Linked DNA regions of Homo sapiens. The protein of the gene in region 1 purifies or fractionates together with the protein of each later gene. This does not show direct contact. Each region holds a gene or a part of one and is shown in the gene's direction. Other genes may lie near its edges.

The links.
Region 2: the proteins of SP2 (region 1) and IRF1 purify together in Homo sapiens (affinity purification with western blotting; one study listed by BioGRID). This does not show direct contact.

What each region holds. Positions count from the first base shown.
Region 1 is NC_000017.11:47,913,236-47,916,735, forward strand, and holds part of SP2 (transcription factor Sp2), read left to right. Parts: intron 1-1,490; exon of another isoform or gene 1,491-1,626; intron 1,627-2,076; coding exon 2,077-2,153; intron 2,154-2,920; coding exon 2,921-3,500. UniProt on the Homo sapiens protein: Binds to GC box promoters elements and selectively activates mRNA synthesis from genes that contain functional recognition sites.
Region 2 is NC_000005.10:132,481,109-132,484,441, reverse strand, and holds the end of IRF1 (interferon regulatory factor 1), read left to right. Parts: coding exon 1-80; intron 81-366; coding exon 367-491; 3' UTR 492-2,833; downstream 2,834-3,333. UniProt on the Homo sapiens protein: Transcriptional regulator which displays a remarkable functional diversity in the regulation of cellular responses.

The sequences.
Region 1 (3,500 bases):
GAGATGGGGTCTTGCTATGTTGCCCAGGCAGGAGTGTTTTGGCTATTCACAGGTGTGATAATAGGGCACTGCAGCCTCAAATTCCTGGCCTCAAGTGATCCTTCCATCTCAGCCTTCCAAGCAGAATGCATCCTGAGCCTTTTTGTCTCTTTTAGTCTTTAAAGTAATACCCCTCTTATTTCTGTACTTACTGAAATCTGCTTTCCAGAGGTCCAGGATTGAAGTCTGACTCTGCCTGGTGTTCTTTTCCTTAGTGATTTATGCACTTTAAGATGGTATAGATTCTTTCTCCTAAAATTCTCATGACTTTCGTTTTCCTGATACTGTGTTTCTTTCTTTTTAAAAAATTTTTATTAGGGACGGGGTCTAACTGTGTTGCTTAGGCTGGTCTTGAACTCCTGGGTTCAAGCGATCTTCCCACCTCGGCTTCCCAAAGTGTTAGGATTACATGCATGAGCTACTGTACCTAGCCTCTTTTGGATGACTTAAGTGCACAGTAGAGAGTCCCTTCATTACTTCCTCAACCTTATTTTTCTTTATTTAAGAAAAAAAGTACAGTAGAATATATTTATCATGGGAAAATGAAAAAGTACAGAAAACCAAGGTGCAAAATAAGTTTAAGTCAAACAAAACTCAACCGCTAGGAGATAATGGCTTAAGACTTTTTCCTATTTGATTATATTCATATATAGAAATATATACACATTTAAACAAAAATAGAATTTACTCTGTTTTCATTCTCCTTGTTATATCCAGTTAGTCATTAGCTCTACTGAGTCTTGGTTGATGCCTGTGGGGCCGTGCCTATTGTACTATGTAAAAGCGTAAATTCAAGTAAAGAATTGACCCATGAGGCCAGGGATGGTGGCTCACGCCTGTAATCCCAACACTTTGGGAGACTGAGGCAGGTGGATCACCTGAGGTCAGGAGTTTGAGAACAGCCTGACCAACATGGTGAAACCCTGTCTCTACTAAAAATACAAAAATTAGCTGGGCATGGTGGTACATGCCTGTAATCCTAGCTACTCAGGAGGCTGAGACAGGAGAATCACTTGAACCTGGGAGGTGGAGGTTGCAATGAGCCAGGATCGTGCCATTGCACTCCAGCCTGGGCAACAAGAGTGAAACTCCTTCTCAAAAAAAAAAAAAAAGAATTGACCCATGTGCTGTATATGCTGCCTGGGGACAACGGCCTTTGTGGTGAAGGCTGAGCATAAAACACCCAAGACTTGGCAGTGGAGCAGGTGTGTCCTCCTTGTCAGAAATCTTGGCTGAGCGATACTTCCCTCCCAGTTTTGGCATCTGTCTACAGCAGGAGTGAACAGGAGGCTTGAGTTTGAGCTAGAGGATTAGCTGGGGAGCTCCCCCCTGCCCACCATAGAGGAGTTCCAGTTTAGCTATGGAGAGCCAGCAGTGCCCAGCAGAGAGGGCATAGCTGAGTTACAGAAGAGAGTCCTGGTATAATCTTGGTTATTTTTGTGTTATCTCAGACTCTGTGGTGGCTGGAGGGGGCAGTCCAACGACAGCAGGACCAGCTGTCCTCACAGCCTCAGATGGCTGAGTCTGAGGAGAGGAGAGGAGAAAGTAATCTACTGAAATAGATGTAAGGCTATCAACCCAGGGTGGGTAAGTCTGGGGAAAAGTCATTAACTTCCCTTGGAGAAGCAGCAACAAATAGAGGCAAAAAGAAAATCTGGCTGGGTGCAATGGCTTATGTCTGTAATCCCAGCACTTTGGGAAGCCAAGGCGGGTGGATCACCTGAAGACAGGAATTCGAGATCAGTCTGGACAACATTGTGAAACCTCTGTCTCTACTAAAAATACAAAAATTAGCTGGGCATGGTGGCAGCGCCTGTAATCCCAGCTACTCAGAAGGCTGAGGCAGGAGAATTGCTTGAACTTGGAAGGGGGAGGTTGCCGTGAGCCTAGATCATGCCACTACACTCCAGCCTGGGCAACAAGAGCAAAAATTCCGTCTCAAAAAAAAAAAAATAGAAAAAAAGAAAATCTGAGGCAAGTGGGCTTGCGTTCTTTTTGGGCATTTTATACATTACTCCATCTCTTTTCTTCCAACAGATCCACAGACCAGCATGGCTGCCACTGCTGCTGTGAGTCCCAGTGACTACCTGCAGCCTGCCGCCTCCACCACCCAGGCGAGTAGGCAGTGGGCTCCGAGGGCTTGGGGCTGCAGCATCCTGGACAGACTCACCGAAAACACTCTCTCTTCACTGTCTCACTATAAATACCCTAGGTTATGAGACTGGGGAAGGTTCAGTTAGCCACATTTTCTTTACTGAGAAACTATGGCCATTTACCTAAGGTGCCGCAGTTGGGCCAGGGGGAAAAACAAGGATTAAACTCTGTGTTCCTTCCACCAGACCTCACTAAAAAAGGAAAAGGAAAACAGAGGCTTTCTCATTGTCTCGAAAGTGTAGCCCTCCCCAGTCTATAAAGTTACATGTTCCGAGTACTAAAAAGCACTTTACTGAAGTATTTATTCCTCCTGTTGCCCCTCCATTTTTTCCTCCCTCCTTTCCTCAGTTGAGCAATCAGGGACCCCTCAGTCCCTGGGGTGGGCTAACAAACTCCATCTGAGAGCCAAACATGCTTCACTGTCCTTAGAAACAAGGCCAGCGGAGAGTAGGAAGTCAGCTCGTGCTGTTAGTTTACCCTGTCTGTGGGGTGCTGCCAGGGGTTCCTTCCTGAGAAAGACATTGCCCACCTTTTCTCCCTCACTTAATGGAGAAACCAGTAGAGAAGGGGAGACAGCAGCCAAGCAGGGGAGGGTACTGGCAACATGCCTGCCCCGGAGGTGGGGAAGACTGGCGTGGAATGCCGCCAGGAGGAGAGGATCATGGACAGAGGCGGCCGGGCAGCGGGCCTTCCTGTCTCACTCCTTTTCTCTGCTGTTTTTTTGCAGGACTCCCAGCCATCTCCCTTAGCCCTGCTTGCTGCAACATGTAGCAAAATTGGCCCTCCAGCAGTTGAAGCTGCTGTGACACCTCCTGCTCCCCCACAGCCCACACCGCGGAAACTTGTCCCTATCAAACCTGCCCCTCTCCCTCTCAGCCCCGGCAAGAATAGCTTTGGAATCTTGTCCTCCAAAGGAAATATACTTCAGATTCAGGGGTCACAACTGAGCGCCTCCTATCCTGGAGGGCAGCTGGTGTTCGCTATCCAGAATCCCACCATGATCAACAAAGGGACCCGATCAAATGCCAATATCCAGTACCAGGCGGTCCCTCAGATTCAGGCAAGCAATTCCCAAACCATCCAAGTACAGCCCAATCTCACCAACCAGATCCAGATCATCCCTGGCACCAACCAAGCCATCATCACCCCCTCACCGTCCAGTCACAAGCCTGTCCCCATCAAGCCAGCCCCCATCCAGAAGTCGAGTACGACCACCACCCCCGTGCAGAGCGGGGCCAATGTGGTGAAGCTGACAGGTGGGGGCGGCAATGTGACGCTCACTCTGCCCGTCAACAACCTTGTGAACG
Region 2 (3,333 bases), on another chromosome or scaffold:
CAATGAACCTGGAGTCCAGCCCACCTCTGTCTATGGAGACTTTAGCTGTAAGGAGGAGCCAGAAATTGACAGCCCAGGGGGTAAGAAGGCCCTGGATCCTTATGGCTTCTTAGATGAGGGAGAACCACGTAGGGATGGAGAAAGCTTGGGGGCAGGGCCAGGGAGCAGGGCGGTAAAGCATCTGGGGTACTGACACATTGTGAATTAGCTACGGCTGCCATGCCTTAAGGTTTGCCTGAAGCTGAGTGGATGTTTACTGCTGTGCTGGGAAGAGCAGAGGCCATGTCTATGGCCTTCAGGGGTAGGGGGAAGCACACCTGATGCCACCGTCCCCTACCCTCATACAACCTTCTTCACATCTTCTAGGGGATATTGGGCTGAGTCTACAGCGTGTCTTCACAGATCTGAAGAACATGGATGCCACCTGGCTGGACAGCCTGCTGACCCCAGTCCGGTTGCCCTCCATCCAGGCCATTCCCTGTGCACCGTAGCAGGGCCCCTGGGCCCCTCTTATTCCTCTAGGCAAGCAGGACCTGGCATCATGGTGGATATGGTGCAGAGAAGCTGGACTTCTGTGGGCCCCTCAACAGCCAAGTGTGACCCCACTGCCAAGTGGGGATGGGGCCTCCCTCCTTGGGTCATTGACCTCTCAGGGCCTGGCAGGCCAGTGTCTGGGTTTTTCTTGTGGTGTAAAGCTGGCCCTGCCTCCTGGGAAGATGAGGTTCTGAGACCAGTGTATCAGGTCAGGGACTTGGACAGGAGTCAGTGTCTGGCTTTTTCCTCTGAGCCCAGCTGCCTGGAGAGGGTCTCGCTGTCACTGGCTGGCTCCTAGGGGAACAGACCAGTGACCCCAGAAAAGCATAACACCAATCCCAGGGCTGGCTCTGCACTAAGAGAAAATTGCACTAAATGAATCTCGTTCCCAAAGAACTACCCCCTTTTCAGCTGAGCCCTGGGGACTGTTCCAAAGCCAGTGAAATGTGAAGGAAAGTGGGGTCCTTCGGGGCGATGCTCCCTCAGCCTCAGAGGAGCTCTACCCTGCTCCCTGCTTTGGCTGAGGGGCTTGGGAAAAAAACTTGGCACTTTTTCGTGTGGATCTTGCCACATTTCTGATCAGAGGTGTACACTAACATTTCCCCCGAGCTCTTGGCCTTTGCATTTATTTATACAGTGCCTTGCTCGGCGCCCACCACCCCCTCAAGCCCCAGCAGCCCTCAACAGGCCCAGGGAGGGAAGTGTGAGCGCCTTGGTATGACTTAAAATTGGAAATGTCATCTAACCATTAAGTCATGTGTGAACACATAAGGACGTGTGTAAATATGTACATTTGTCTTTTTATAAAAAGTAAATTGTTTATAAGGGGTGTGGCCTTTTTAGAGAGAAATTTAACTTGTAGATGATTTTACTTTTTATGGAAACACTGATGGACTTATTATTGGCATCCCGCCTGAACTTGACTTTGGGGTGAACAGGGACATGCATCTATTATAAAATCCTTTCGGCCAGGCGCGGTGGCTCACACCTGTAATCCCAGCACTTTGGGAGGCCGAGATGGGTGGATCACCTGAGGTCAGGAGTTCGAGACCAGCCTGGTGAAACTCCATTTCTACTAAAAATGCAAAAATTAGCTGGGCGTGGTTGCGGGTGCTTGTAATCCCAGCTACTCAGGAGGCTGAGGCAAGAGAATCGCTTGAACCTGGGAGGTGGAGGTTGCAGTGAGCCGAGAACATGCCATTGCACTCCAGCCCGGGCACCAAAAAAAAAAAAAAAAAAAAAAACCTTTCATTTGGCCGGGCATGGTGGCTTATGCCTGTAATCCTGGCACTTTGGGAGGCCAAGGTGGGCAGATCACCTGAGGTCAGGAGTTTGAGACCAGCCTGGCCAACATGGTGAAACCTCATCTCTACTAAAAATACAAAAATTAGGCCGGGCACGGTGGCTCACGCCTGTAATCCCAGCACTTTGGGAGGCAGAGGCGGGCGGATCACGAGGTCAGGAGATCAAGACCATCCTGGCTAACACGGTGAAACCCCGTCTCTACTAAAAATATAAAAAATTAGCCGGGCCTAGTGGCGGGTGCCTGTAGTCCCAGCTACTCGGGAGGCTGAGGCAGGAGAATGGCATGAACCCCGGAGGCAGAGCTTGCAGTGAGCCGAGATTGCACCACTGCACTACAGCCTGGGCGACAGAGCGAGACTCCGTCTCAAAAAAAAAAAAAAAAATTAGCCGGGCCTGGTGGCGGGCGCCTGTAATCCCAGCTACTGTGGAGGCTGAAGCACAAGAATCACTTGAACCCGGGAGATGGAGGTTGCAGTGAGCTGAGACTGTGCCACTGCACTCCAGCCTGGGTGACAAGAGTGAGACTTTGTCTCAAAAAAAAAAAAATCCTTTTGTTTATGTTCACATAGACAATGGCAGAAGGAGGGGACATTCCTGTCATAGGAACATGCTTATATAAACATAGTCACCTGTCCTTGACTATCACCAGGGCTGTCAGTTGATTCTGGGCTCCTGGGGCCCAAGGAGTGTTAAGTTTTGAGGCATGTGCCATAGGTGATGTGTCCTGCTAACACACAGATGCTGCTCCAAAAAGTCAGTTGATATGACACAGTCACAGACAGAACAGTCAGCAGCCCAAGAAAGGTCCTCACGGCTGCTGTGCTGGGTAGCACTTGCCATCCAGTTTCTAGAGTGATGAAATGCTCTGTCTGTACCGTTCAATACAGTAGGCACTGGCACTAGCCACATGTGCCAGCTAAGCACTTGAAATGTGGCCAGTGCAATAAGGAATTGAACTTTTAATTGCATTTAATAAACTGTATGTAAATAGTCACATGTGGTCAGTGGTTACCATATTGAACAGTGCAGGTAGATACTGGACTGGGGGCAGATCTGAGGGAGAGGGGTTTGAGTAGTGGGAGGACACTGGGGATAGGGGCTTGGGGCTATTTACCTGCCATTTTGAGTAGTTTGCTATTTTAGCAGCCAACAATAACTATTGGTGCTGAATACCAGCCCTGCAGTGTAGCATGAGACAGGTCCATGCACACATGCATTAGGAAAACACCTTCATGAAGCAGGATTCTGCCTGGGCTGATGCACACAACCTCTATGGAGGGTAAACAGTGTTTCTGAAGACCGTAGTTTGGGAACCCCTGACATATGACAATGCCCCCTTAGATAAGCTCAAGTTACAGGAATGTCTGAGGGTGGAAGGTGTGGATATGTGCTTTTCCTGTCTCCCTCTTCAGTGTCTGGCCATGGGGCATAAACACTACCCAGCAGTAGGTAGGCTGGCCAAGAGAAGCCAGCTTGCATCACCAGCATCATCTA